Linked DNA regions of Homo sapiens. The protein of the gene in region 1 purifies or fractionates together with the protein of each later gene. This does not show direct contact. Each region holds a gene or a part of one and is shown on either strand. Other genes may lie near its edges.

The links.
Region 2: the proteins of USP43 (region 1) and AIFM2 purify together in Homo sapiens (affinity purification with western blotting, with the first as the bait; one study listed by BioGRID). This does not show direct contact.
Region 3: the proteins of USP43 (region 1) and CEP57 purify together in Homo sapiens (affinity purification with mass spectrometry, with the first as the bait; one large-scale study listed by BioGRID). This does not show direct contact.
Region 4: the proteins of USP43 (region 1) and FTSJ1 purify together in Homo sapiens (affinity purification with mass spectrometry; one large-scale study listed by BioGRID and IntAct). This does not show direct contact.
Region 5: the proteins of USP43 (region 1) and INTS1 purify together in Homo sapiens (affinity purification with mass spectrometry, with the first as the bait; one large-scale study listed by BioGRID). This does not show direct contact.
Region 6: the proteins of USP43 (region 1) and PDCD2 purify together in Homo sapiens (affinity purification with mass spectrometry; one large-scale study listed by BioGRID and IntAct). This does not show direct contact.
Region 7: the proteins of USP43 (region 1) and NHS purify together in Homo sapiens (affinity purification with mass spectrometry; one large-scale study listed by BioGRID and IntAct). This does not show direct contact.

The regions. Positions count from the first base shown.
Region 1 is NC_000017.11:9,725,270-9,728,276, forward strand, and holds part of USP43 (ubiquitin carboxyl-terminal hydrolase 43), read left to right. Parts: intron 1-2,684; coding exon 2,685-3,007. UniProt on the Homo sapiens protein: May recognize and hydrolyze the peptide bond at the C-terminal Gly of ubiquitin. Involved in the processing of poly-ubiquitin precursors as well as that of ubiquitinated proteins.
Region 2 is NC_000010.11:70,122,407-70,126,578, forward strand, and holds part of AIFM2 (ferroptosis suppressor protein 1), read right to left. Parts: intron 1,695-4,172; exon of another isoform or gene 1,692-1,694; 5' UTR 1,679-1,691; coding exon 1,501-1,678; intron 1,115-1,500; coding exon 999-1,114; intron 1-998. UniProt on the Homo sapiens protein: A NAD(P)H-dependent oxidoreductase that acts as a key inhibitor of ferroptosis.
Region 3 is NC_000011.10:95,792,973-95,797,144, reverse strand, and holds part of CEP57 (centrosomal protein of 57 kDa), read right to left. Parts: intron 2,925-4,172; exon of another isoform or gene 2,612-2,924; intron 1,630-2,611; exon of another isoform or gene 1,604-1,629; coding exon of another isoform or gene 1,586-1,603; intron 1-1,585. UniProt on the Homo sapiens protein: Centrosomal protein which may be required for microtubule attachment to centrosomes. May act by forming ring-like structures around microtubules. Mediates nuclear translocation and mitogenic activity of the internalized growth factor FGF2, but that of FGF1.
Region 4 is NC_000023.11:48,482,699-48,486,870, forward strand, and holds the end of FTSJ1 (tRNA (cytidine(32)/guanosine(34)-2'-O)-methyltransferase), read left to right. Parts: coding exon 1-96; coding exon of another isoform or gene 97-153; exon of another isoform or gene 154-256; intron 257-287; coding exon 288-320; 3' UTR 321-329; intron 330-542; exon of another isoform or gene 543-643; intron 644-3,037; 3' UTR 3,038-3,652; downstream 3,653-4,172. UniProt on the Homo sapiens protein: Methylates the 2'-O-ribose of nucleotides at positions 32 and 34 of the tRNA anticodon loop of substrate tRNAs. Requisite for faithful cytoplasmic translation.
Region 5 is NC_000007.14:1,476,567-1,480,471, forward strand, and holds part of INTS1 (integrator complex subunit 1), read right to left. Parts: intron 3,876-3,905; coding exon 3,751-3,875; intron 3,119-3,750; coding exon 2,864-3,118; intron 2,320-2,863; coding exon 2,160-2,319; intron 1,941-2,159; coding exon 1,800-1,940; intron 1,371-1,799; coding exon 1,187-1,370; intron 1,108-1,186; coding exon 984-1,107; intron 353-983; coding exon 228-352; intron 92-227; coding exon 4-91; intron 1-3. UniProt on the Homo sapiens protein: Component of the integrator complex, a multiprotein complex that terminates RNA polymerase II (Pol II) transcription in the promoter-proximal region of genes.
Region 6 is NC_000006.12:170,577,751-170,581,843, reverse strand, and holds part of PDCD2 (programmed cell death protein 2), read left to right. Parts: exon of another isoform or gene 1-755; intron 756-1,738; coding exon 1,739-1,842; intron 1,843-2,873; coding exon 2,874-2,987; exon of another isoform or gene 2,988-3,064; intron 3,065-3,187; coding exon of another isoform or gene 3,188-3,208; exon of another isoform or gene 3,209-3,362; intron 3,363-4,093.
Region 7 is NC_000023.11:17,685,952-17,690,123, reverse strand, and holds part of NHS (actin remodeling regulator NHS), read right to left. Parts: intron 2,383-4,172; coding exon 2,230-2,382; intron 1-2,229. UniProt on the Homo sapiens protein: May function in cell morphology by maintaining the integrity of the circumferential actin ring and controlling lamellipod formation. Involved in the regulation eye, tooth, brain and craniofacial development.

The DNA.
Region 1 (3,007 bases):
GTGTAAGGCTCTAGGCTCAGACTGGCTGGAAACAGAATCTTCTCGGGGTGGGGTGGGGCGGGAGTTGAACCAGAGTTAGTGCCCAGGGGTCTCTGAACACCACTGTGTTCAGCATCTGTCTCCCAGCATCCCAGAAGTTTTGCCCATCTCCCCGGGGGAGGGGTACCAGGACTTGCACCCACCCTAGACGGGAAGTGACTTTGTAGAGAGGAAGTGTGATGTGAGCGTGGGGGCCTCTTATTCCCTTCTGTTCTTATGCTGCTTATTTCTCAATTTTATTAAAGCCATCACTGTCTCAGATCCTGTTATCCTAGCCCAATAAATGGAAGGAGAATAAAGATAACAGGGGTACTTTTTCACTGCCATCTCGAGAAAGAGGAGACACGAGTTCCGTGGGCATCTGTGGTTCCCATGAAATGTAGCTCAGGCGTTGATGTCAGCCCTGGCCTCAGAGACTTTCCTACCAGGAAGAAAGGAAGAACTGCTATTTCGGGCAGCTGCCAACTCCTCTCGCCACCTGCCGGGGCTCCAGGCAACATGCTCTCATTTTGAAAGGCTAAAAGTCACAGCTTTGTCCTACTAATACAAAGCGTCCCTTTCTGCCCTTCCCAGGGCTGTGGAAGAGAAAAAAAGAAATAAACTTCACACACATCTCAGACCCCAGAACATTTCTTCCCCACCCCCCGAGGGCTGGGAATTTAATAAGGTCAATCTAAACCAAAATTACAGAGTATTTTGGGTAAAATTGTGTCTATGACTGGCTAATCTAAAGAAATGCTTTGAGGAAAGAAAAAATCAAACATTCTTTATGAGAAACCTGGAAAGTCACATCCTTGAGATGCTTTCTAACTCCTTTTGGAGGTCATGGGCTTTCGGCTTCTTCCTGCTCCAGCCATTTCTCCAGGGGTGCTTGGTCGATGTGCACTTTGCCTCCCCCGCGTTCCTGCAGCATTCACTCCCCTGCACCTCATTCTTTTGCCTTTCCTGAGCTCTCACCCGTGCACCTGACAATCTCTGGCCCTTCTCTGTGTCACACATCGTGTTGGCTGTGCCGCTGACAGGGGGCTTTTTATGGCAGGAGTTCTGCTCCCTTTTGGAGCTTCTCTGTTTCATTGTTCATTCAGGCTGTTAGAACAGAATACCACGCCTGGGCAGCTTATCCACAACAGACATTTCTTCCCCACAGTCCTGCAGGCTGGAAGTCTGAGATCAGGGTGCCAGCATGATGGGGCCCTGGAGAGGTTCTTCCCGGCTGCAGACAGCTTCATGTGTCCTCACATGGCAGGAAGAGAGCTGGGTAGCTCTTCAACCTCTTCTTAGAAGGTCACTAATCCCATTCACGAGGGCTCTACCCTCAAGACCTAATTACCACCCAGCAGCATCACCCCCTTAAACCATCGCCTTGGGGACTAGAGCTTCAATGTATGAATCTCAGGGGACACAAACCTTCAGTCCATAGCACCCTCAAACACTATGATGAAGTGGCACAGTGAGAGTGGCCACCCGTGGGGCAGACTTCAGAGGTCACCCTGCAACCTTTCTCCAAATGTGTGTGACTGTCCTTGCGCCATGTAGGTTGTGTGTTTCAGTTGCGCCAGGTGGATTGTGTGTTTTAGCTGAAGATTTCTTTCTCAATGATTGCAGACATCATGTAAAACAAGGCATTTTAATGGTACAGTGACTGATGACTGAGAATTTCTTTCTTTTTTTTTTTGGAGATGGAGTCTTGCTCTGTCACCCAGGCTGGAGTGCAGTGGCATGATCTCAGCTCACTGCAACCTCCACCTCCACCTCCCGGGTTCAAGTGATTCTCCTGCCTCAGCCTCCTGAGTAGCTGGGATTATAGGCATGTGCCACCACGCCCAGCTAATTTTTGTATTTTAGTAGAGATGGGGTTTCACCATGTTGGTCAGGCTGGTCTCGAACTCCTGACCTTGTGACCCACCTGCCTCAGCCTCCCAAGACTGAGAATTTCTTAAGCAAAAATACACAACCTTGGTTGTACATATGTTCCTTTTAGAAATGTGGAGATATAGGAAAGAATTAAGAAAAAAAATCCATCACAAACAGCACTGCCATGGCCCTATCCACACCTTGTTTTTGGCATCTATTTCTCTATTCTTATTTGTATGTTTTCACATGCATGCATAATACATGCACGTGTATATATTTTTACAAGTTGTATAGGTTGGTGCAAAAGTAATTGTGGTTTTCACCATATTTTTTTAATTCCATTTTTTTTTTCTTTTTTAGCCCAGGGTAGGATATCTGAGATTCTTGCATTTGAAAGGTACAAGGACCTAATATGACCTAGAAAAGCAGGAACTTTTGCTGGGCATTCCGTTTCATAGGAATATTTAAAGATAGATGAAACTGATGTTCATTCTTAAGGCTAGATGCCCGTGAGACTGAGCTTTGCCAGGTGTCTGTGCTGCCCGGCATGTAGATACCTTCTTTGGCACTGGCTTACCCTGTGGCTTCAAACGTGTAAGTGGATATTGAGGAAGAGTGGGTGAAACCGTTGCTGTTCCCCAAAGGCAGGAACCCTATGTGGCTTCTTCACTGCTGTGTCTCCAGTGCCCAGCACAGTGCCTCCCACATCAGAGGTGCTCAGTGAACGTTAGATGACTGGCATTTCAGCTGTAGGGTGGCTTGTACACTGACAGTCTCTCTGTCTCTTTCAGGAGGGTTGGAGCCCAGGCGTTTGGTACGGGGCGTGAAAGGCAGAAGCATTAGCATGAAGGCACCCACCACTTCCCGAGCCAAGCAGGGACCATTCAAGACCATGCCTCTGCGGTGGTCCTTTGGATCCAAGGAGAAACCACCAGGTGCCTCCGTCGAGTTGGTGGAGTACTTGGAATCCAGACGAAGACCTCGGTCCACGAGCCAGTCCATTGTGTCGCTGTTGACGGGCACTGCGGGTGAGGATGAGAAGTCAGCATCGCCGAGGTCCAACGTCGCCCTTCCTGCTAACAGCGAAGATGGTGGGCGGGCCATTGAAAGAGGT
Region 2 (4,172 bases), on another chromosome or scaffold:
GGAAAGGAATTGTGTTTCCTTTTGTCAACGCCCCCTTAGCTTCAAACACCAAATGGGGCTGGGCTGGACATGACACTCATCCAGAGCTGGTGGCAGCTTATCGATGGAGCTGAAGTCATGGCAGGTGTGTTCCAGGCTCCATGATGCACATGTGAGGTGGGGGAACACACAAATGAGTGAAGGGAAACCTCTGCCCCAGTGACGTCCCGATCCGGGGGATGTGGGACCATGCGTGTGCCTTTTTGTTCTAGACAGAGCCGAGGGCTGGCCAGGCCTGGGAGTTGTCTGGGACGCTGGCTTTTAGAGCATGGGCTCTGGGCTAAAATTGCATGGGTTCAAATCCTAGTTCAGTCTCTTACCAGCTGTGGGATCTTAAGCAAGCCATTTAACCCTTTAGCTTCTCTGTAAAATGAAGTTATACCACCTTCGCCATAGAGGCACGGTAAACATTCATGAGACTTACGTAAAGGCTACAAACAGGGCCTGGCATGCAGGAATTACACAAGAAATATCTGCCACCATATTCTTGTGGTTGCTGTGGTCAAGCCTTTGTTTATGAGGAATCCGCTATCTGCCCAGCACCAGGCAGGGCTTGGGGCTCACAGACAGCATTCTCTTTTTTTTATTTTTATTTTTTGAGATGGAGTCTCTGTCTGTCACCCAGACTGGAGTGCAGTGGTGCAATCTCAGCTTACTGGAACTTCCACCTCCGAATTCAAGCAATTCTCCAGCCTCCTGAGTAGCTGAGATTACATGCGCCCACCACCACACCCAGCTAATTTTTGTATTTTCAGTAGAGACAGGGTTTTGCCATGTTGGGCAGGCTGGTCTCAAACTCCTGACCTCAGGTGATCCGCCCGCCTTGGCCTCCCACAGTGCTGAGATTACAGGTGTGAGCCACCGCCCCCAGCCTAGCTCTCTCTTGACCCTGGAGGATCCCGCCCAGGCCCTGCAGAGGGCCCTTGAGCCAGCTGGCAGCCGGGCTGGCCCTCACTCACCTCGCCACCCTGCAGCAGCACCATCTGGTTCTTCAGGTCTATCCCCACTACTAGCCCCTGCCGGAAGTTGTCCTTGAAAGTCACCGAGTAAGAAATGAATGTCTTTTTGGCGAACCCTGGGGAAGGGACACAGAAGAGGTCATAGGGCAGAGCCAGGCTGCCCACGGGAAGCCAGAGTGACTCAGAACCTTTCACGAGCTGCAAACCAACAGGGGTGCCCTTGACCAAAGCGTCGGGCCATTAGGTATGCCTGGGGTACCCCTACTTCCTAAAATGCCAATCTGGGCCTCAGACCGTCAGAAAAGCTCAAGCTTTTACTTCTAGGGTCTCATTGTGGTGGCTACTTAAGACCAAAGACCTTGAGCTTCTCCAGAACTTGTCTGACAGTGGAATGCAGGCACTTGGCCCTAAATGGAGAAAACCACCCCCAGCCCTAAAATCAAGCCCCAGAGCAGAGACAAGACCCCCCTCACAGAGACAGCCCCAGACGGGAGCACATTACCTGTCTCCACGGAGGCTCGGAGAGCAGCCACATTGTGGTGGAAGGAGTCCTTCATGTCCACCAGCATGAAGGGGACGTTCAGGGCCTGCAGCTGGCTGGCTGCTGCGATCCCGCCAAAGCCCCCACCCACAATCACCACGTGCAGAGCTCCCGATTCCACCGAGACCTGGGACCCCATCTCAAATCAGGCACTGCTGGGAAGAAAGAGGAGAGCATATCAGAGTCAGGGAGGCTGGGAGGGCTGGGAGGACCCACAGTGAGAGAGGCCTCGATCATGAATTGACCTTTTTAGATGAGGTAAATCTTTGATTAATGAAACTCCAATTTTATAAAATTTGAATTAAATTCAGAAGGAACAAGGGGGTATCCCACTTCCAGCCCATTCCCCAAACACCAAGTTCCCTTCTCCAGAGGCATCCACTGTTACGTAACAAGTTTGGATGACTCCTTCCAGAGATAGTTTATGCAACTATAATCACGATTATTTTTTGCACCCATTAAACAAAGTGTTCTGCACATTTGTTTTTTACTTGATATATTCCATCAAAGACTTTTGGGAGAGATTGCAGTGGGGCAGGAGGAAAAAAAAGACTTTTGAAGAGGGGAATAATGTTCACTCAACAACATATATGAATTGAACTCCTGCTTTTTGACATGCTCTGTGTTGTGTATCCTGTGGTCAGACAGGCAGATATGGTCCCTGCCCTTATAAGGGCAGACCTTACAAAGTCAAAGAACCAGGTGGGCAATGTCAATGATGTGAGAAGCTGGGAAAAGGTGCAATAACAAGAAACAGTGGGCACACCTGTGGGGAACCAGCAAGCATAGGCCACATCTAAAGGAACAACAAAAAACATTCTTTAAGCACTGCACTAAACAAACACCGCAACCAGATTCAGCCCAGCTCACAGGTCACCAACTTAAGGTCCAGGTCTAAGGAGGTCAATTAGCAGGTTACGACAAGAATCCTGCAAAATTCTGCTTCTAGGGTTTGAATATGTCTCCCAAAAAGGAACAGTGTTAAGAGGTGGGGCCTAATCGGAGGTGTTTGGGTCATACGGTCTCCACCCTCATGAATGGATTAATACCAATTATAAAAGGGCTTTGAGGCTGCAAGTTCAAGCTCTTCCTCTCTCTCGCTCTCTCTTTTGCCTTCCACCATGGGATGACTCAGCATGAAGGCCCTCACCAGACACTGGGCCCTTGATCTTGGACTTCCCAGCCTCCAGAACCATGAGCCAATACATTTCTGTTCATTATAATTACCTAGTCTGTAGTATTCTGCTGTAGCAGCAGAAAACAGACTAAGACAAATGTGGTGTGAACTAAGACTGTGATCATGGAGTAGGAAGGAGGGGCCACAACCATATGCTACAATGCCTGGCTAATTTTTTAATTACTTGTAGAGATGGGGCTGGGTGTAGCAGCTCACGCCTGTAATCCCAGCACTTTGGGAGGCTGAGGAAGGAGGATCTTTTGAGCCCAGGAGTTCCAGACCAGCCTGGGTAACATAGAGAGACTCTGTCTCTACAAAAAAAAAAAAAAAAAAAAAAAAAAAAAAAAAAGCCAGGCGTGGTGATGGGCACCTATAGGCCCCGCTAATTGGGAGGCCGAGGTGGGAGGATCACTTGAGCCAGGGAGGTCAAGGCTGCAGTGAGCCGTAACTATGCCACTGCACACCAGCCTGGGCCACAGAGTGAGACCCCATCTCAAAAAAATAAAACAATAAAAATAATAAATATTGGTAGAGATGGGGGTCTCCTTTTGTTGCCCAGGCTGGTCTCAAACTCCTGGGCTCAAGTGATCCTCCCACCTCAACCTCCCAAAGTGCTGGGATTACAGGCATGAACCACTGCACCCAGTCCCCATTTCTTTGTATGACCTCAAGATGGTATATAAGCTTCTGTACCTCTTTTGGGGGTCGGGTCTTCCTTCTGAAGGCTCCTGTGTATACACACATTAAATAAATTTATATTTTTATATTTGTATAAAGTTGCCTTTTATCCAACTCAACAGCCTTGGGCCCTACAGCAGCAAAGTTGCCTGGGCTCCCCAAGCCAGCCTGGAAGGCTGGTAAACAGGGTTACCTGTGCATCCCAGAGTCTGCCCCAGACAGAGGAGGGCCCAGGGGCTGGCCTGGGGCTGCACCAGAGGCCTTGCCTCCAGCCCAGCAGAACCCCAAATTAGGATGCTTGCAGTGTGGGCCTCAGGCAGGCAGAGGGCTGCTGGTGTGGGAGGAGCCGCACAGCCCATTGAGGGGCACTCTTGACTGCAGCTGAGACCCTGAGAGGTGACAAGCAATCAACCCTCCTCCTGGCCTGTGCTGAGCCCTAAAGAGAGGCAGAAATAAGCCAGGCTGCTGGGGGGAGATGCTGAGAAAAAGAAACAAAACTCACACTATACAGAAAGCAGCCCCAGAGGCTCAACAGCTGCTGTGGGCTTCAGGAAGGGGGACTGGAGCGGGTGTCAGCGAAGGAGGAAGTAGACTCTGAGGTCAACCTTGAAGGATAGACATCAAGCCACTGAACAGCCTCATAAGGAAGTGTGTTCCAGCTCATCTGGGACCCTCAGGCCGCTGGAAGGCCACTGCACTGCCCTGATCATCTTTGCGGGTCTGGGGCACAACCCCTTCCCTCTCTAGGCCTCAATTTACCCCCTATAATGGGAGGGGA
Region 3 (4,172 bases), on another chromosome or scaffold:
AGTCACAAATTTCAGCCCTAGGCCCTGACCTTAGGGGAGGTAAGGGACAGATTGAGCCCAGTGACCAGCGGACAATAATTTACTCAATTATGTATTTATGTAATGAAAGCTCAATGAAAACTCTTGAATAATGAGGTTTGGGGAGCTTCTAGATTGTTGAACATACTGATATGCTGGGAAGGTGCTGCACCAGAGGATACAGAAGCCCTTTCACACCTTGCCCTATGTCTCCTCCATTTGGCTGTTTCTGAGTTGTGTCCTTTATAAAACTGAAATTGCTTAAGAACAGTCTTTCCTGAGTACTGTGAGCCGTTCTTGGAAAGCTGCAGGAATCCCATAATTTGTAGTCAGCTGAGCAGAAATGCAGATGCTCTGCGAACTCTGACTGACTTGGGGGCAGGCAGTCTTGTGAAACGGAGCCCCTTAATGTATGGGGGTCTGAGCAACATCTGGGCAGTGTCAGAATTAAAATAATTGTAGTACACCCAGTTGGTGTAGAATTTTTGCTGGAGAAATTAAGTTCTAATAAAGGAGTTTTATTATGTTCAATAAATCTGTTGAATATTAACTATACATTTCCTCCGCAAAACAGGAAACTGCACATTACTTATAAAAGATTATCCTTTTCAACAAAATCACTACAACCCTTTAAGAGATCACCAAAAGCTTTTGGGCTTCTTTATATTTAACAAATAGCACAAATATCATAGGAAGGCTGCGTAGAAAGGAGCCCAATTCTAACTCCCAATCCACTAATCTCTCCATGACCCTAAGCATTCAGTAAAAATTATTCCAACCAAAATATGATTGTAGGAGAAACTTTCAGGATTAAAGGCAAAATGTTTAACCTGATCACTAGCTTTTCCTGCAGCCTTTAGTTCTTAGGGCAAATATCTCATTTAGGAACACATAATTCAAATATTTATTGAACATCTTTTTATGACACTGTGTGAAGTATGAAGCATAATTTAAAAATGCATATTACTTGCTTTCTTTATAAGTGGCACATGCAACACAGCTGCAAGATATTACCTAGATAAAACTCAAATACAAAACAGTAGGTGGGAACTGGTAAATTGGATGTAATAGAGACTAAGTGCAAATTAAATTCAGATGCATTCAACAGAACACTGCTTCAAAACAGTATGGTAAAGGAAGGTCTTTATTAGTGCTGAAATCGATACTGGGTCTTGTAGATTGACATGTATTCTGATAGGCAAGCTAGAAATGGATATAAAAGGCAATTATTTCCAGGTTAATGAATACATCAGTTTAGCTGAAAAAAAGAGTTTGTGTACACATGTTGAGGAAATAAAATTGGAGAAGTCAAGGTCCAATGGTGGAGGAACATGATGTACAGCTCTGAGCAGTGCAATCAATGCAACAGTTCCAAACTAAATATCAATACGATCGTCAACAAATGTAGAAAAGCATTCAATAAAATTCAACATCCAGCCATTATTTTTTAAAAAACTTACTTCCTTATGATAATATGAAGTTTTACAAGAAAAGATGGCAAACATACTTAATGGTGGAAAACTTGAAATATTCCTTTTAAAATCAGGAGTAAGACAAAGATACCTACATCAATTCTGGTCAACATTGTACTTCATTTCCCTAGTCTGCACACTAAGAAAAAAAAAAAGAATAACAGCTATTAAGATTGAAAAGGAAGAATCCCAATTTCGTATCATGACTAAATAGAACAAAACAAAAAATCCTCAATTATGAGAATTAAGTCTGGAAGATTGCTGAGTAAAATAGATATGTAAGAGTCAGTAATTTTATATATTAGAAAATGCAACTTATGAAAATATATATCACACAATTAAAAACTAGAAATAAACTGAACAATATACAAGACATGAAATTATACAAGTACTGAAAAATGTTAAAGTTCTAAATAAATGGAGTAACATAACATTCAGACAGAAGGGTCAATATCCTAAACGTATCAGTTACACCCAAATTAAGCTAGAAATTCAATAAAATCTAAACCAAAATTCCAACAGCAGGTTCCAGAATTTCTACTGAAGAAAAGCAAAGGACCAACAATAGCTAATATTTCTCTTGAGTAACAAGGAGGTAAATGACCCCCCCACCTCCAAGTGGGTATCTAAGTAGGAGAGACAAATACAACAAAGGGACAAAGAGCCAGGTAACACACCCATACACATATGGAAATGAACATATTGCAAACCATTGGGGATAGGATGAATTTTCAACAAGTAGTGTGGGGACAATTGTGTATTTTAAGTAAAACCGTTACACTGGATCCCTATCTCACAGCATACAAATTAATTTCAAGTAAATTAAGGACATAAAAGGCTTCAACTTTAAAATAAGTAGGAAAAAAATATAGAAGAATACAACCAAGGCCTTGGAGAAAGGAAGAATTTCTTAAACAGAAATCACTAATTATAAAAAGACTAACAAATTTTACATTAAAAGTAACAACAACTATTAATCGAAAGATATCAAAGACCAGCCAAGATGTCTCTGGAACAGTCTTAACAGACAAAAACAGGCAAAGGACATGAACAGGTATTTCACAGAAGAACACACACACACACACTAGTAAAGGTTTGAAAAAAACAGGGTGCATACTCACCAATGATAAGAGGTGCACAAATCAGAAAATAGGATACCATTTCACACACACAGCAAAAATTTACAAGTGGGACGATACCATCCATTTAAGAGGACATAAAATAAAGAGGGTTGTTGGTATAATCACTTGGTAAAACAATTTAGTATGACCGAGTAAAGCTGAAGACGCACATACTCTGTGAACCAGATAATTCATTCAGTTATATTTGCTGAACGATTTTCTCTCTCTTCTTTCTTGAAAATGATACGGGTTGAGTCACAGTACATATTCCATGACCCACTACTGAGCTGTAATCCAGAGCCCAGCCTCTGGTCTGGAAAAAAAAAAGAAAAATCACTGCCCTAGAGTTGCCCCTTGCAAACTTTTTCTCTCAGGACCCCTTTACACTCTAAAAGATCTAGTGAAAAGAATGGCACTATTTTACATTTCTGCAGATCTCTTTAATGTTTGCTTTAAAAAAAGAATGCTGGATTCTCTTATCTAGTTCTGCATTCGCTCTGTTGGATATGTTATTTTGTTTGACTTATTAAAGATCTAGTCTACCACAAACGTGGTCATTACAGAAGGATCTTGTAGACTCTGAGAGGGTCTTGGAGATCTCCAAGGGTTGTGAGACCATACTTCGAGAACTGCACTCTAGAGAAACATTTGCCATGTACAGCATATAACAATGAATACAAGATTGTTTCTAATATCTGGCAAACAAATGAACAGCAAAACCCATTAAATCCAAAGCCCATTAAGATACTGTCATTTACTAGCTAGAGAACTTTGACTCAACCTCTCTGTGCCTCATTTTGCTCATTTGAAAAAGGAAATATTAATGCCAATCTCAGAAGGTTATTGTGAGGATTAAATGAGTTAATGCATGAAAAGGGTCTTTAAGGATTATGCCTTGCCAGGTAGTCCTATATAAATACCATACATTATAATCTTAAAATACGTGGTAGTGGGTGGGTGTGGGAAGGAGAAAGAAGACACAGAGGAACATGAAGGTATTCATTTTATTATTCTCAAAAAGTAAATCTTATATTTAATATTATAAAATGTATGATAGCCATAAAACATTTTTAAGGGAAATTAATATGGAGCTACTGTGCAGCTTGGTCGAAGGACCAAAAGTCAGAGGGACAAATCAAGAGATTAGGTCATTAATCACCAAGGTTATTGTGAAAATATTACAAGGCTGACATGAAAGACATTCTTGTGTATTTCAACACAATGCTGCCCATACCTCCATATGGAATTAATTTCATTATGCCCAATCATAGTTGCTTTCCTGCCTTTTCCACCAGTCGAAGTTTATCAATTCCAGAGCAATCACTCAATAAACGTTACCTAGAACCTAACTGAAACCTATCGCCCTACTTCCATGCTGTTCACATTTGAGATTTACATGGTCACTGCTTCCCAAAGACGGTTATTTATGAATCTACTTGTTAAAAATCTTTGCCTGTAAAGCATCTCAATGTACTTATAACTAGCTCCGTATGAGTTTATCAATGTCGAAAACAGTTGAATATAACAGTTGTTAATCTTCATAACCGTGAAATCTGAATAC
Region 4 (4,172 bases), on another chromosome or scaffold:
AAGGAGATCCGCCCCCAGGACTGCCCCATCAGCAGAGTGGACACGTTTCCCCAGCCCCTGGCCGCCCCTCAGTGCCACACCCTGCTGGCCCCTGAGGTCTGGAAATGTGACTCTCAGCCTGCCTTGACCCCTTCCCCGTGTGCCTTTTTCTGACCCAAATCTCATGGTTTCTGGGGCCAAAATTCCCTTTCCTGCCTCCCAATAGCTATAAAAAATTGGTAAAGCCAAGCATAATGAATGGAAAAGTTTCGCCAAATATGTGAGTCACTTTTCTTTTTCTTGGGTAGATGGAAGACAATGAAATGAGTTGTTCACCTTAACCCATTACGGTAAGTTTGCCTTGTTATCTAAGAGTTTGAGTAAGGGCAACCTTTATGAAAAACCTCAGTAAAATTTCACCTTTGAAATTTTTATGTCAACTGATAAGATTTTAATCAACAAACCCTTTTCTAAACATCTGTTGTTGTATGCCAGGAACTGCTTTAAGCATTTTACATTTGAGGCATTCAGTAAACATTTATTGAGCACATACTGTATGTCAGGTGTTGTTCTAGGTTTGGAGATAGAGCAGGGAGCAAAACAGAAATATCTTGGCTCTCACAGTACTTCCAGTTTGGAAAAGAGGCAACAATCAAAACAGTCTGTAAGTGCAAGAGTTTACATACACATATATACTATATAGCTTGCATTTCTCAATTTACATATCTTGCAATATATATAATATATAAGAGTAATATGGGATATAAAAAATAGAAAAAAGTAAAGCAGGGTGAAGAGAATCAGGAATTCTAGGCATGGCAGTTTTCATCTTTTGGTGTTTTTGTTTTGAGACAAGGTCTCACTCTGTCGCCCAGGCTGGAGTTCAGTGGTGTGATTTCCCGGGCTCAAAAAATCCTCCCACCTCAGCCTCTCAAGTAGCTGGGACTACAGGCATGTACCACCATGCCTAGCAAATTTTTGTATTTTTAGGGGAGATGGAGTTTTGCCATGTTGCCCAGGCTGGTCTCGATCTACTGGGCTCGAGCGATCTGCCATCCTCGGCCTCCCAAAGTACCAGGATTACAGGCATGAGCCACTGCGCCCAGCCAGTTTGCACTTTTTAAAAGGGTTGTCATAGAAGGCCTCAGACATTCCTCAGAGGTAATGTTTGAGCAAAGACCTGAAGGCACTGCCGGAGGGAAGCCATGTGTTTATCTGAGGGAAGAGCATTCTGGGTAAAGGAAATAGGCATGTCCCAAAGGTGGAACTGCACGTGGTATGGGAGGAAAGTTTATCCATAGCCAAATGTTCTAAAACCACGATGTTAGAGGATGGCCCTTTCTGACAATGGCATAGCAGGTTATTCAGACTAAGTCAGCCATCACAAAAAGCCACCTTTTTTTTTTTCTTGAGACAGAGTCTTACTCTGTTACCCAGGCTGGAGTGCAGTGGCATGATCTCAGCTCACGGCAACCTCCATCTACCAAGTTCAAGCGATTCTCCTGCCTCAGCCTCCCAAATAGCTGGGATTACAGTGCCCGCCACTATGCATGGCTAATTTTTGTATTTTTAGTAGAGATGGGGTTTTGCCATGTTGACCAGACTGGTCTCAAACTCGTGACCTCAGGTGATCCACCTGCCTCGGCCTCCCAAAGTGTTGGGATTACAGGTGTGAGCCACCACACCTGGCCTTTTTTGTTTTGTTTTTTGTTTTGTTTTGAGAACAGAGTCTCGCTCTGTCGCCCAGGCTGGGTGGAGTGCAGTGGCACTATCTCAGCTCACTCCAACCTCCGCCTCCCGGGTTCAAGAGATTCTCCTGCCTCAGCCTCCTGAGTAGCTGGGATTACAGACGTGTGCTCCCACCTCACCCGGCTAATTTTTGTATTTTTAGTAGAGACGGGGTTTCACCATGTTGGCCAGGCTGGTCTCAAACTCCTGACCTCACAAAATCTGCCTGCCTCAGGCCTCCCAAAGTGCTGGGATTACAGGCCTGAGCCACCACACCTGGCCACAAGAAGCCACCTTAAGAAAAAATTGAAACAGCAAATCATTGTGTGAAAGAGATTTACAGTTTTTAATATTTAAAGGGTCCTGTAAATCAATAAGGAAAAACATGAGAGTGGCCAGTAAGCACATGAAAAGCTGCTCATCAGGAAAATACAAGTGAAAACTCAAAATATCAACAACACTAAGTATTTGAAAGGATATGCAGCAATTGAAAGCCTCGTACATGCTACTGGGAAGGTAAAATGGTGCAGCCACTGTGGAAACTTAGGCATTACCTACTAAAGCTGCATGTGTGCCAGTTCCACTCCTAAGAAATGAGTCCTAGAGGCCGGGTGCCGTGGCTCAACGCCTGTAATCCCAGCACTTTGGGAGGCCGAGGTGGGTGGATCACCTGAGGTCAGGAGTTCAAGACCAGCCTGACCAACATGGCAAAACCCCATCTCTACTAAAAATACAAAAATTAACCGGGCATGGTGGCGGGCACCTGTAATCCCAGCTACTCAGGAGGCTGAGGCAGGAGAATCACTTGAACCTGGGAGGTGGAGGTTGCAGTGAGCTGAGATCGTGCCACTGCACTCCAGCCTGGGTGACAGAGTCAGACTCCATCTCAAAAAAAAGGAAATGAGTCCTAGAGTGTTGCTAGCAGCACTATCTATAGTATATGCCCATTAAATCGTGGTACATTCACCGTGGAGAACTGTACAACAATGACAGTGAACATCCTGCAATTACACCAAATAACACCTTGTAGTTATTCATTAAACTGAACATATATAGGTTTTATGCATTTTCTATATGTCATGGTTCACCATAAAAGGAGGAAATGTCACAAAAATGTTAGCAGCAGAGTTAGCTAGGTGTGGTGGCACATTCCTGCCTGTAATCCCAGCTACTTGGGAGGCTGAGGTGGGAGGATCACTTGAGCTTGGGAGGTTAAGGTTGTCGTGAGCTATGATGGAGCTCCACTGCACTCCAGCCTGGGTGACAGAGCAAGACCCTGTCTCTAAAAAAACAAAACAAAACAAAAAAACTTTCTTTGACTTTTGGTTAGCTGGCAAACTGATACAACTCAGAAACTGCTCAATGTCAGGAAAACCGGAACTTGTTGATGAACTTGTTTTCAAAATATCATCTCATCAACGAGGCCTGGACAAACAAGCCCTGAGGAGGGATCTGCAACAACCCTGAAGACAACAAGGAAAGAAACCATGAAAGTCTGTCTGTACTGCAGTGGGAATTCTTGAGTGAGGTCTTACCTCTTCTTTAAACCTCTTCAGGAGTGTCCTGATTATGTCCAGAATTTTCCCTAAAGGCAGGGATTCTTAACCTGGATAGAAGCCAGGGGTAACCATGAACTTGATGGAAGAAAATGTTACATCTTTATTTTCAGCAATGAAACTGAAATTTAGCCTTACTCCCAAGTTATAAATGCTGGCAACAAATCACAGTAGTAAAAGCAGTACCTGGGATTTTCCCACCAATACAAACCAGTTACAGCAACTGTAATGTAACATAAAAAGGGCATCTTGAAGTATTGTTCATATTTGTCACCTCTTGGAATGATAGCAGATCCTGTAAGTTGATGTATTAATTAAAAAGCCCATATATTACTGCATCTCAATTTTGTTTCAATTTAATATATAGTAATAATTGTAATTCAATGTAATTGGCTTCCATTGTAATTGTGTGTGTGTGTATGTGTATGTATATACTTTTAAAAATATTCTGTGAAGGGGTTCACAGATTTAACCAGATGCCAAAGGGTTCTGCAGAACAAATTTATTTATTTATTTTGAGACAGAATTTCGCTCTGTCACCCAGGCTGGAGTGCAGTGGTGTGATCTTGGCTCACTGCAACCTCTGCCTCCTGGGTTCAAGCGATTCTCCTGCCTCAGCCTCCCGAGTAACTGGGATTACAGGCACCCGCCACCACACCCGGCTAATTTTCGTATTTTTAGTAGAGACGGGGTTTCACCATTTTGTCCAGGCTGGTCTCGAACTCCTGACCTCAGGTGATCCACCCACCTCGGCCTCCCAAAGTGCTGGGATTACATGCGTGAACCACCGCACCCAGACTTCAGAACAAATTTTTTAGGTTAAAAACCTGTCTTAAAGAAACGTCAGGGCCAGGCGTGGTGGCTCACGCCTGTAATCCCAGCACTTTGGGAGGCTGAGGCAAGCGGATC
Region 5 (3,905 bases), on another chromosome or scaffold:
TGCCTGCGGGGTGCGCTGGTCCCGCCCCTGCCAGATGCGAGGAACATGGATGCAGGCCCAGAGGAAGTCCAGAGAGGCAGAGGGGTCGAACCTGTGGGGAGGCAAAGGTTCCAGAGCACGAGGTGTCTCGTCTCAGCATGGGAGATACCAGTCAGAGCCGGCGCTGGGAGATTTCTGGTGAAGGCCAGTATGCGCGCAGCCCAGGTTGGGGACAGGGAGGCGCCCACCTCTGTTCCCGGCTCTTGCCCAGCAGGACTCGGATGCACTGGTGCAGTGTGGGCCAGCTGGACTGATGCGTGAAGAGGGTCAGGAGGTAGGGACGGAACGAGGGCACCTGGGCCTGACCTTTGCCCTGGGGAGGGAGGAAGAAGCCCGGATGGCCTCACCTGGGCCAATGGCAGGCTCTGCTGAAGTCAGCTGACAGCTTCCCCAATGAGCCACTCAGAGAGCCGAGGCTTGGGGTGCTGCCGGTAACACCGGCCCCGTCATGGTGCTGGAGGGCCGCTCCTGGTGGCTGCGCTGCATCTCCCCGCCCCTTCCCACGGGAGCCATGCCACACAGCGGAGGTGCCCGGGGCTCCATGCAGCCTCTCTGGTGAGGCCGTCCCTCCCTGGAGGATGTGGGGAGCCCAGCACCTGCCCTCCCTTCTCCTGGCCACAGCCCCATTCCCTTTGGGAAGATGGAGGCCCCTACATGATCTACAGGGTTTGGCAGGGCCGACCCCACCCCATCCACCCACCCCATCCCCACATCTGGCTGGTCACAGTGCTGGTCCACAGGTGACTGTGACCCTGGCCTGGGTTCTGCTAGGGCCATTGGGGGACCTACCCTTCCTCTGGGTTGCTACAGGGACACATGGCCTGAGAGCAGGGGGGGTGCTGGGGCCCCTGCAAGGCTCGCCCAGGCCAAGGCTGCTGCACTTCAGGTCAGGAAGAGCCTTTACCCTGGGGTGGGTCCCCGTGCTGAAGCTGGGTGCCACCCACCTTCCTCCGGGAGAAGAGCAGCCTGAGCTGCAGGTCGGGGCAGCTGCTGACCACCTCGGGGTCCAGCATTTCCAGCCAGTCCACTAGGAGGCCTGACGAGGGCCCCAGCCGCACGGCCTCCAGGCTGCAGGGAGAAGGTGGCTCAGGGAAGGGCTGGTGCCACCCGCCTGCCCACCCTGGCCGTGTGCAGCACCCCAGCTCACCTGCCACCGTCCGCACCCGGCTTCCCCCCAGCCAGGGGCTCCTCCTCCTGCAGCAGCAGGGAGCTCACCACCACAACGGGCTTACAGGCTGGAAACGGGGAGGCAGCATCCGCAGTGGCAGAGAAGAATGCAGTCAGCAGCTCCTCCAGGTGGGGGGACCTCACCTCGATCAGCCCCTGGAGGACTGCGCAAGGGACAAAGAGACATGTGGGTCACTCCCAGGTCGGGTGGGGGCCGCTGAGTGGGTGTGGGCTAGCCAGGGTGGGGTGTGGGGTGAGCATGTGTGGGACACAAGAGCAGAGTCCAGCCGGAGCCAGAGAGGAGAGTGCAGCCGGGGCCGGAGAGGAGAGTGCGGCCGGGGCTGGAGAGTGCGGCCGGGGCCGGGGCTCACTTTGCTGGGTGCAGCAGTGATCAGGGGCCCCCCAAGGAGGAAGCTCCAACTCATTCTCAAGAGGCCCCGCCCTGAGCCATCTGGGAGGGGACCTCTGTGGGCACTTTCCGGGGACAGTGCTGAGCAGACACTGTCCGTCCCCCACTGGGCAGCTAGAAGGAGCCTCAGGTTTGGGTCTTCCCAGGGCCGCCGTGGCCCAAGAGGATGGTGCCAGGAAGGTACCTTTGCTGATCAGGTCCGGCTCCACGCTGCACTGCTCCCCAGACCTCAGGGTGGCGATGACGGCACGGACGGTGGAGCTGACCACCTCCAGGTCCTGACGGAAGGCCAGGGCCTCGGCCAGGCGCAGGAGCCCCCCTCGCACTGTGGGAGGTCTGTGTGAGTGCCCTGTGGCTCCAGCCCTCACCCCATCGGTGTATCCCATCCAGGGAGGCCCCACGGTAGAAGGGCTCCCCTGGGCCCACGCGGGTACCCACCCCCCAAGCCACTGCCCAGGCCTCGGGGTGCCAGGCAGCTTGGCCACTCTGAGTGAGCCCCTGTCCAGTGCCCCCCAGCCGTCTGCCAGCCCGGCGCGGTCCTCACCATCACTGAGCCTGCGCCCGGCTGAGGCCTGGCTGGCAAGCATCCTGAGCTGTGCCCGCAGGGGCCCGCCCTCCACGCCAGGGCTGTCCAGCCACTGCAGCATCTGCAGGAGCACCTTCAGGAAGAGCGAGGAGAAGCCGGTGTCCTGTGGCACACAGCGCTGCGGGGACAAAGTGGCACGTGGCTACCCTGGCAGAGGACACACGGGGACCCGGCACCCGAGGCCCAGAGCAGGGCCCGTGAGGCTGCTGAGACCTGCCGCGACCGGCACTTGGAGCCTGGGCCAACCTCATCCCGCCTCCTGTCTGAAACGGTGCCTCCCCTGCACGGGCCCAGACGACCTCACAGAGACCCTTTCAAAACCCCCCAGCTGGTGAGGGCTCCCACGCGGTTCAAAGGAAAAAGTAAACACAGACACCAAGTAAAACACAGTCCTAGGTACCAGCAGATGGGGAAAGCAAGGCAGGAGCGCCGAGCCTGGGTGGTGCAAACAGGCGGACGCCGCACTGCCCCCACCTCCCGTCCCGGGGGAATGTTCACTGGAAAAAGGGGACCTGCCGCCACTCCCTGGGGCACTGTCCTTTCTCACTTGGAAACTGAGACCCAAGACCCACAGAGGAGCAGTCACAGGACACCCGGGCCGTCCTGCGGGAGGCAGAGCCCTCACTGCCCTCCTCCCCCGCAAGAGGCCCACGCCCAAGTACCTGGTACTGGCAGAGCTGGCGCAGCAGCGGGCAGGCCAGGAAGTGGCTACGGTGCATGGACATCACCAGGGCACCGCCGTGTGGGGAGCTGAGCAGGGTGGCGAGGGCCTGCAGGACACGCACCGTGATGCCCGGCACCTCGGGGCTGCCCTGGACGACGCGGGCCAGCTCCTGGCCCAGGGCCTGCTGCAGGGCGAGGGCCACGGGGCGGGGACTGGAGCTCTGCCACCGAGGGTCCGGGCTGAGCGGGAAAATCTGGAACGGGGAAGGCCAGTGTCAGGAGGAAGCGGAGGAGAAGGAGGAGGAGCGCAGCGGAGAGGCTAAGCGCCCGGTGCAGCTCCGTGCCAGAACCGCGTCCCATCGTGTCCCTGTTCATTCGTAGCCCCCACCTTGTGGCCTGAGGGGCCCAGGGCCCTTGAGACCTGTGATGTGAAGCAGTGAGGGACCCCAACACCCAGGAGCTGCCCCAGAGAACAAAGGTGTCCAGAGCCTGCCCAGGGACCACCAGGCTCTCCATCAGGAGGTGGTGAGGCCTGCAGGATCCCCGGCTCCAACAGCCAGACCTCAGGCGAGACCTGCAACCTCAGCTTCTGTACACATCAAACCGGGTGCCCCGCGCAGAGGGGTGTGCAAGGATGGCAGGGAGGATGCAGGGCGACCCCCTTCCCCAATGTTGGCCTAGCCTCCATCTGAGAGCATGGGGGTGTTACGTGAAAGCAGCGTGCCAGGGTCAGGCGGTCACGCGTGTAAAGGCCGCTGTGCGTGTGCAGCGTGCCTGGGTCAGGCGGTCACGCAAGTAAAGGCCGCTGTGCGTGCGAGGCGGCAGCGAAGGCTGCACGCAGGAAGAGGGGCTGCAGGTGGAGACCCACATGCAGCAGCAACGCTACCTGGAGGAACATGCCAGCCAGGTCGTCCTCAGGGCCCAGCACCCGGAGCTGGGTCCCCACCCGAATCCGGCCCTGGCCTATGGGCTGCTCTGGGCTGCTCTTTGGTTTGGGTGCCTCTGTGCTGTCTGCAGAGACAGGAGAACTGTCAGTGGCTG
Region 6 (4,093 bases), on another chromosome or scaffold:
ACTTCAAAACATAGGACAGTACATCTCTAGTAGAATATGCCCTGAGAATGAAAAGAATGTAACAGTGTTAGTATTTTGAATAAACATGTTATTACTAGACTGTTGCTTTTATTTTGAGATGGTTGTGTGTGTATTGGGGGGAAAGGAAACGAGTAATTATGTTGGTGTTACTGAGAACTGAGATGTTGGGCGTAGGAGGAAGATAATGTTGATTGTGTCTACGTACCATTTCTCTCTAAAAGGAACTCCAGGCTCTTTGGAGAGGTGGTTGATTCCAGAACTAGGTCAGGAAACGTTCATATAATGTGGGAACATGGTCATATCAAAGATTAAGGATAAGGATTACTAGGGCCATGTCAGAACTCAAGCAACATGAAAAGGCTCCTGCTTGCAAAAGATGGACAGTTTGAACATCCACAAGGACGCTAACTGCATCAGATATGTTTAATGGGTTCAAAATGATACTTTAAAAAAACTCAGTAATCATCTTTATAGGATACTTGGGAACAGACTCATTTTCAAATTGGTAAATAAAAGGAAAGAGTTTGCCTTCGAGGGGTACATAACTTAATTATGAATGAAGTGATATGTGTGGAATTTACTTCAGAGTAATGGAGGTGGAAGTGGCAGAGAAAGGAAACACTGGACTTGATAGTGTTGAAACTGATTAATGATATGTGGCGGTTCATTATAGTATTTCCACTTTTCTGTATGTCCAAAATTTTCTAAAATAAAAGGAGAATTGAATAGAAAAATGCTTCCTGGAGGTAGCTGTGTCTTACCTGAGACTTGGCAGGAGGCAGTAGGGCCTGAGGGAACAGCATTTACAGTGTCCTAACGGTTATACTGAAACTTTCCACGTATACTTGATGGAACATCAATCTGAAGGCATCCTACACTTCCTCCATCAGACCTGATGGTGCAAGTGAACACCATCAGTGCCTTTCCAGTTTCATCAAAGCAGTTATTTTAGCTTCTCTGACCCAAGGTATATCAGTTCTATTTTAACGTACATTACAAAGACTAATGGTTATACTTAGAGACACGGGTCTGTTGGGGACAGCAGTGGCTTAGGGTGGCTGTAATCCCAGGAAGGAATGTGGAGAAGGAAATGAACATTTTTTTTTTTGAGACGGAGTCTCACTCTGTCGCCCAGGCTGGAGTGCAATGTCACCATCTCGGTTCACTGCAGCCTCTGCCTCCCAGGTTCAAGTGACTCTCCTGCCTCAGCCTCCCGAGTAGCTGGGATTACAGGCACCTACCACCACGTCTGGCTAATTTTTATATTTTTAGTAGATACGGGATTTCACCATGTTGGCCAGGCTGGTCTTGAACTCCTGACCTCAGGTGATCTGCCCGCCTCGGCCTCCCAAAGTACTGGGATTACAGGCGTGAGCCACTGCTCCAGGCCAGAAATGAACACTTGATGACTGAGTGAGTGAGCCTACCAGCTGAGGATACTAATGATAAGGGCTCACATTTGTTGGGTGTCCTGTGATGTGCTGGGCAGTCCTAAGCCCTTGACCATTCTGTTATTTTGAAGCTTTAAGGAGATGCACTAAATGGAAGTCCATATAATAGAGTTGGATGGAGTACCTGGAAATTCAGATGGTCCAACTTGAATGAGTGAATAAATAGGGAAAGCTATCTGATTAAAAGTGGGTCCCCTCTCCATGTGTGAATTGTCAAGTTGTGGGGATTACTCCTGTTTTTCATAATAGTTACGTTGATTTTTCAGGTGAAGCACTTGAGGAAGAACTGGATTCCATGGCAAAACATGAATCCAGGGAAGATAAAATTTTTCAGAAGTTTAAAACTCAGATAGCCCTTGAACCAGAACAGGTAAAGTGGAGCTCATAGCTCCTCATCGTGTTCTCTTCAGGCCATGTTTTATGAGTATAATCTGTAAGAAATAACTTCATAGTAACATTAGTCTGTTCCTTAGGAGCCTATAAAAGCAGGCTTTTGTTATCTTGTTAGAGGAGTTCCTCACACAGATGGGCCATGTAGAAAGGTGTTTTGCAGTGCTGATCCATTTAATAGTTACTAAAAGACTAAAGGTTATACTGTTTATCATACAGGGTTCATTTTCTAAAGCAAGCATCAGGGATGGGAGATGAATGAGATGTTGCCTAAGGTACATGAGGTTTAGGCACCATTGGCCCCCCCGCCAGAAAGAAAAAAGGTTATTTTTGCCCATTTCCAACAGGTAACTTTGGCTTGTAAAATGTGACATGTTAACATTTTTCTCCTTAACCTCCCCTACCATAAACGTAAATCACGAAAGAAAACTAAACTCCCATAAACCAGTCACTGGTTCAAATAAATACACAGGAAGAATAGATCTAGGTCTTAAACACTAAGGCAGTTTTTAGCAATGCATATGCTTTTAGACAAAATACAGAAAACCACTCAGTTGCTGTAGGAAGCTTATTACAGTGAAATTTACTTATGTTTGTAGTAGTTTTCAAAACACTATGTTTCACTTGGTATTTGTCCCTCCTAAAATTTTTTAACTATGAAGGTAGGCACAGACTCTGGGCAGAATTCTGCAATTAGAGCAGAGGCTCATTCTTAGTCCCTTCACAATATATTCATAGGATTAAGTTGCCAACATTAGGTAGTAAAAGCATCATCTGGGAGATATATTTTGATGCCCTCTGAGTCAGATAAACTGAAATAATCACTTTGAGGTGATTGAGAAGGCATTAGTGGCACACTGGTACAGCCAGGTCTGATGGGGGAACTGTGACATGCCTTTTGGGTCAGTGCTACATCAAGAGTAGGAACATTCATGGAGTAGATAGCATGTTACCATTGGCAACTTATAGGTAAGGTATTGATTATTTGAACATGATCTTCATTGATTTTAGATTCTTAGATATGGCAGAGGTATTGCCCCCATCTGGATTTCTGGTGAAAATATTCCTCAAGAAAAGGATATTCCAGATTGCCCCTGTGGTGCCAAGAGAATATTGGAATTCCAGGTATGACCTTAAATAAGGACCATTTAGTGTGTAATCACCATGATTGTTTTTAAACATTAAAAACTTCACCAAGGTAATTTGTGCACATGGGTCAACATGGCAGTATGGAAGGGTACCCTATAATGAAAATCATCAGTTTCCTGCCTCACCTTGGGGCTAGTTCCCTGGAAGGAACTGTCTTGTTTTTTTCTGTTTCCTAGTTTTCAGACACGGTCTATTGACTGACTTCTGTGACAATGAGGATATCTACACTGCTCTCCACCTCCAGTGTGGTTATGTCATTATTATTAGTGCCTCTGTTAACTTTTGTTATTTTAAATAATGTATACCTTCCTTTCTTGTTCTAGTAATTAAAGTCTTTGACTATATACTTTATGAGAGGAGTCTTTACTGTTTAATCTTGGTTTGTGGATTTGTTAGAAAAAATGGATATAAGCATTAAAGATAAATGTCCTTCCCTGCCCAAAAGGATTTGTTAGCATCAAAATCCATTTGGGTAGGGTGGAAATGCTCTTGAGCTATGGATTCACTAACCTTACCAAAGTCATAGCTAATATTGGTTTGTTTCTTTGGGTAAAAAAGGAATTATGAGGACCATACACAAAACTCTGCTTGGTTCTTAGTGCCAAAGCTCTCAATGTCCAAATTGAGGTGACAGGATTTGTATAAAGTGATTCCATATCAGGTGGCTATTCTGCCTATTCACTCTTTGAGTTAGACTACTTCTAAGATTCCTCTCTGGTCTCTATAACTACATTGATAGATGTCCTTTCTGTATTCATTACTAGTAATTAGTGTTTCTTGAGTCAAGAGTAACAACATCTGCAATGATACAAAGTAAAAGTTGCCCAAATAGAAGCCTCAGCCCTTTTGAGTGGCATATTAGTAATGAAAATAATTCATTAACAGCCACTTGTGAACTTCTTTCTCAAATGGAAAAGACCAAACAGAAGGTGAGAGGGGCTTTGAAGTCATAAGGAAGTTTTAGATTGTTAAACATGTTAATTGTATAATGTCTATAATCCTGCTTTGTAGTATGAGGATTGAAAGACCAAGATCCCTATAATCATCCTGGCTGAGAAGGTCTCGTGCTCCCTGCTGTGAAG
Region 7 (4,172 bases), on another chromosome or scaffold:
CAAGATATGCTATTGAGCCAACCGCAAAACAAGCCAGTCTGTGGAGGGTAAAACGCATCTCCACAGTCTTCCTTCCAAACCCCAGGAGGCCCCACATCCCTCTCTCACCGCCCCACAGGAGGAAGTTCAGAGAAAATTGATATCGGCACTTGCTGTTCTTCAGTTCTGCTTTAAGTCTAAACCTGACAAAGCAGTGAAATGTGATAGTTTACGAGCAGCTTGGTGTTATCTGGTGGAATCCATAAAATCCTAATCAGGGATGACTTATTAATAAAATAAAGGGATAAAAATAATTATACCTAAAGGGCTAATGTTACCCAAGATTTCTAATGATGGGACCTGAGAAAGGATTTGGTGAGAACGATCAGATTCCTTTATAGTCATCCTGTGCCCTCAATGTTCAACCAGTTTTTTGCAAAACTTGATTCAGTTCCACAAATGTTCATTGAGGACCTACTATATGTCAGCTTCATGCTAAGTGCTTTGAATAAAATAAATTAATAAGATATCATCCTTGCCCTTGAGTTGCTCATAGATTAATGGCTTATTAGTGGTTGGTTGGTAAAACAGGCCCATAGTGGTTGATTATAAGATTCTAAGTGGCAGGATGGGAGGATGCACAGGATATTATGGGAAGGGTGCCTAATCCAGGCTGCAAAGGAATGGCAAGTGTGGAAAGAAAGATTTTCAGAAGGTGGCTTAAGTTAAAAAAGAACTTCTTAGCCAACTATAAAATTGAAGTGAATGGTAAGTATGCCAAAGATGCTTCTACAGGATACTGATCATCACTCTTCATTGTAAGTGTCACAATGTCTTCCCCTAATAACCAAGGAAAATTTTTAGAAACAATTGCTTTAGGGATATTAGGAGGTTAGCTCTTTCATTAAAAGGAAAAAAAGATGAGGAAGGGAAAAAAGATGAGGAGGGAAAAAAGATGATAATTGAAGGCAACAAACTATTGAAGATAAGGATGGGGAAAAGGCAGGAGTTATACAAATGTGGAATAAATAAGATGAAAACAATATCACCATTTTGTTTCTCCACTTTGATAATGACATTAAAATATTTTACTTGCATTTTAATACTTTTGCAAAATGCCATTTCTTAAAAGAGTGTAGGGAATTTGGAAGAAAGACATTGAATGTGTAGACACCATCTATCTCCATAGCAAGAATCTAAAGGCCAAAAAAAGCTGACATGTCCCCTTCTGATACCCAATTTAGGGGGCTCTAAAACAATGAAGCTACTTTTTATTCCCCTTGTCCTAATTAGAATGGTTTTAAGGCACTGAAAAGCAACCAGTGTAAGAAAAAACTGTATTCCTATTTTGACTGCTATGAGCCTATCTCTAGCTTTCTCAGGACTGTGAGAGACATGTAAACATCAGTACCTATTTCCATGAGACACAGTGTATGGCAAGGAGGAAAAGAGCTCTGGCAGGCATTTCAGAGGCTTAGGTTGGGTCCTGGTACCACACCTAACCTGCTATGTGTGACCCTGAGCAAGTTTCCTCACCTTTCTAGGCCTCCGCGTGTCCCACTAAAGAATGGGGGCATTAGACCGATCACTGGTTCTCAAGAGAAGCAGAAGAGCCCTCTAGGGGATCATTCTAATTGTTACAATGATTGGATGGGAGCCAAAGATGACAGCCATCCCATAATGCAGAGGATGGTCAATGAAAATGTGTCCCAGGTCTCACACAATTTTAAATGTTCCATCAGAATCTCTTATAGGGGAAAAACCTAGTGCCTATTTATGAGTCAAGCCAAATTCCCTTTTCATTCTAATCCAAAGTATTTATTTTTTGCCCATATCTAATATATACTGAATGTACCAGTTTTTATGGTCATGCCCTCCTGCCCCTCGGAATAGTTTCTGAAGGTCTGTACTTAATCCAGACTTGCTTTTGACAAGTGCAGACATCTGACTGCTTCATGATGTCTTCTAGTGAGGTCATGCCTGAGCATTTGCATATTGAAATAGATATTATTATCAATAATTTCCTTTTAATTTCTCTTTATTATCATATTTAGACCATAATATTATTTTTTCTTATGTGTATGGGTTGGGCATATTACCCATGGATTTCATTTCAGGGTAGAAACGGGAGCATTTCAAAGTACTTGCTATAATAAGGGGGTGTGTTGGGGCTGATGGGACAGAGGACACCTGGATGGGACAACCTCCGAGTTGTCTCCCGCAAAAGCCCCCAAGCCCAGGATCTGTCACCTCTGCGCAGGGCTTGCAGGCTCTGCCGGGCGTGGCGGTGCAGCTCCTCCACGCAGGGTGGCCTTGTGGCTGGGAGGAAGATGTTGCGCTGCTGGTGCCACGGGGCGCGGTAGTACACACTCAGCTTACTCTCTATGTCCAGGTTGGAGACGGCTGCAAGACAAGAAACAGGGCGTTGTCCATCAGTGGCTTTAAGTTGTGCTTTTGGCCAACCCTGGGGTGGGGAAGAGGACAGGAGTAAAGTCTGGGTGGAGTGGAAGTCCAGACTACTGCATTCACATTAAGAACTAACTCAAGGCCGGAGAAAGGTTTGGCATTTATGATACTGATAGGGACAACTTTTGCCCCTGAGCCGAGGCACGGGAGGCTCCAAGACACCAACCGTCTACCTATGACTAGCTAATTTCCTCTCCGTACCTTCATTCCTCACCCTTGGCACAGTCGCTCATCAACACTGACAAGCCCCTGGCTAGCCTGCTTGGGGGTGGAGATGGGGGTCCTGTTTCTGAAAAATGTGGAGGAAAGCCTCAGAGATGAATGGAAAGGCTGCCTCAGCTCCAGCCTTCTGGCCGCAGGGCCTCAGAGCTGTAGTTCTGCACGCCGCCCCTGCTGTCCACCTGAACTTCGGCCTATACCTTGCCCTGCCTCTGTCCCTTGTGGTCCCGTCCCCAAGGTATCCTTATCATGCCCTACACCTACCGGCTCCATTGCCTGTCATCTTTCAAAGCATTGCTCTTCCTTGGTTTCACCCAGGGGTGAGCATACGCATTAAAGAAACCATCATAGAGGTAATGAGTATTAAGGGAGGGAAACTGCAGATGCAAGATGAGTTTTTGCAACTCATCCAAGAGATCAAGGAAGGAAGGCTTCCTTCCCCCAAACACAGCATTTAACTCACTCTCATCTTCTTCATGTACACAGGGATCCTAGGATGGAACTCTCCATGAGTTAAACAGAAATTCTGCTGGAAGCAGATGTTAGGAACCAGGAGGATTTTTACTAAGAAATGGCTGCAAAGAGGACCTCACAAGCACCTGGGTAGCCTGTCAGCCTCGGGAATGGCATGAACTGGCCCAGTCTGCTTTACCCTCCAGACACACTATCCAGATCCAGACTCCTGTCCTGGGCCCACCCTGCTCCCCCCACCTCCCAGTCTCATCTCTTTCCACTCTGGTTCAGTAATGGGGGATTGACTGAGAAATCAGGCTCTCCCTGCATGCAAAAGTCAACTCCTACCCAATGGGGCAGAGGTCGTTACCAAACCCAACAGAGAGGACCATGAATTCATGTGCTCATGACAGCTGGGAGAAGGGACAGAACAGAAAGCATGTCTGTGGAAAGAATGGGCAAGAAGCCAGGTGGGCAGTCCTAGAAGTAGAGGGGCTTCTGAGCACCCCTTCCCTTAGGCTCGTCTTTTCAGGAAGGTGGGAGCCAGGATACAGGGCTGGGCCAAGGTGACTAAGAGGTAGACCAGAAGACTCTTCTAGTCCCTCATTCCCTCAGCACTGCTGACCAGAGGCTTAGGGTGGTAACTTTTGACAGCCCCTCAGAAACCAGGTCAAGTGGCCATGGCTCTTTAATTCTTGTGTGGGGAAAACCTGAGCCCCTCCTATTTATCTTAATGTTCATCTGAAGAAAAGGCTCATCAGAAGTGCTTGTCAAAAACACAGATTCCTGGGCATCAACCTAGACTTTGAATCAGAATTTCCAAAAGAAAGGCCTGGTAATCTATATTACATGAAAAGTTATTTTTATCATCAGGCAGGTTTGAGAAACACAAAATGTCTTCTGATGATGCCTTGGGATCTTGTAGGAGTGAAAGGAGTTGGGCAACATGAGGGAAGGGAAGACGCTGCTGAAAATGGAAACATCCATCCACCCATGGAACATTCCCAAGTAGCTCTTAGTCTCAGGCATGGTGCTAGGTGTTGGAACACAGCACA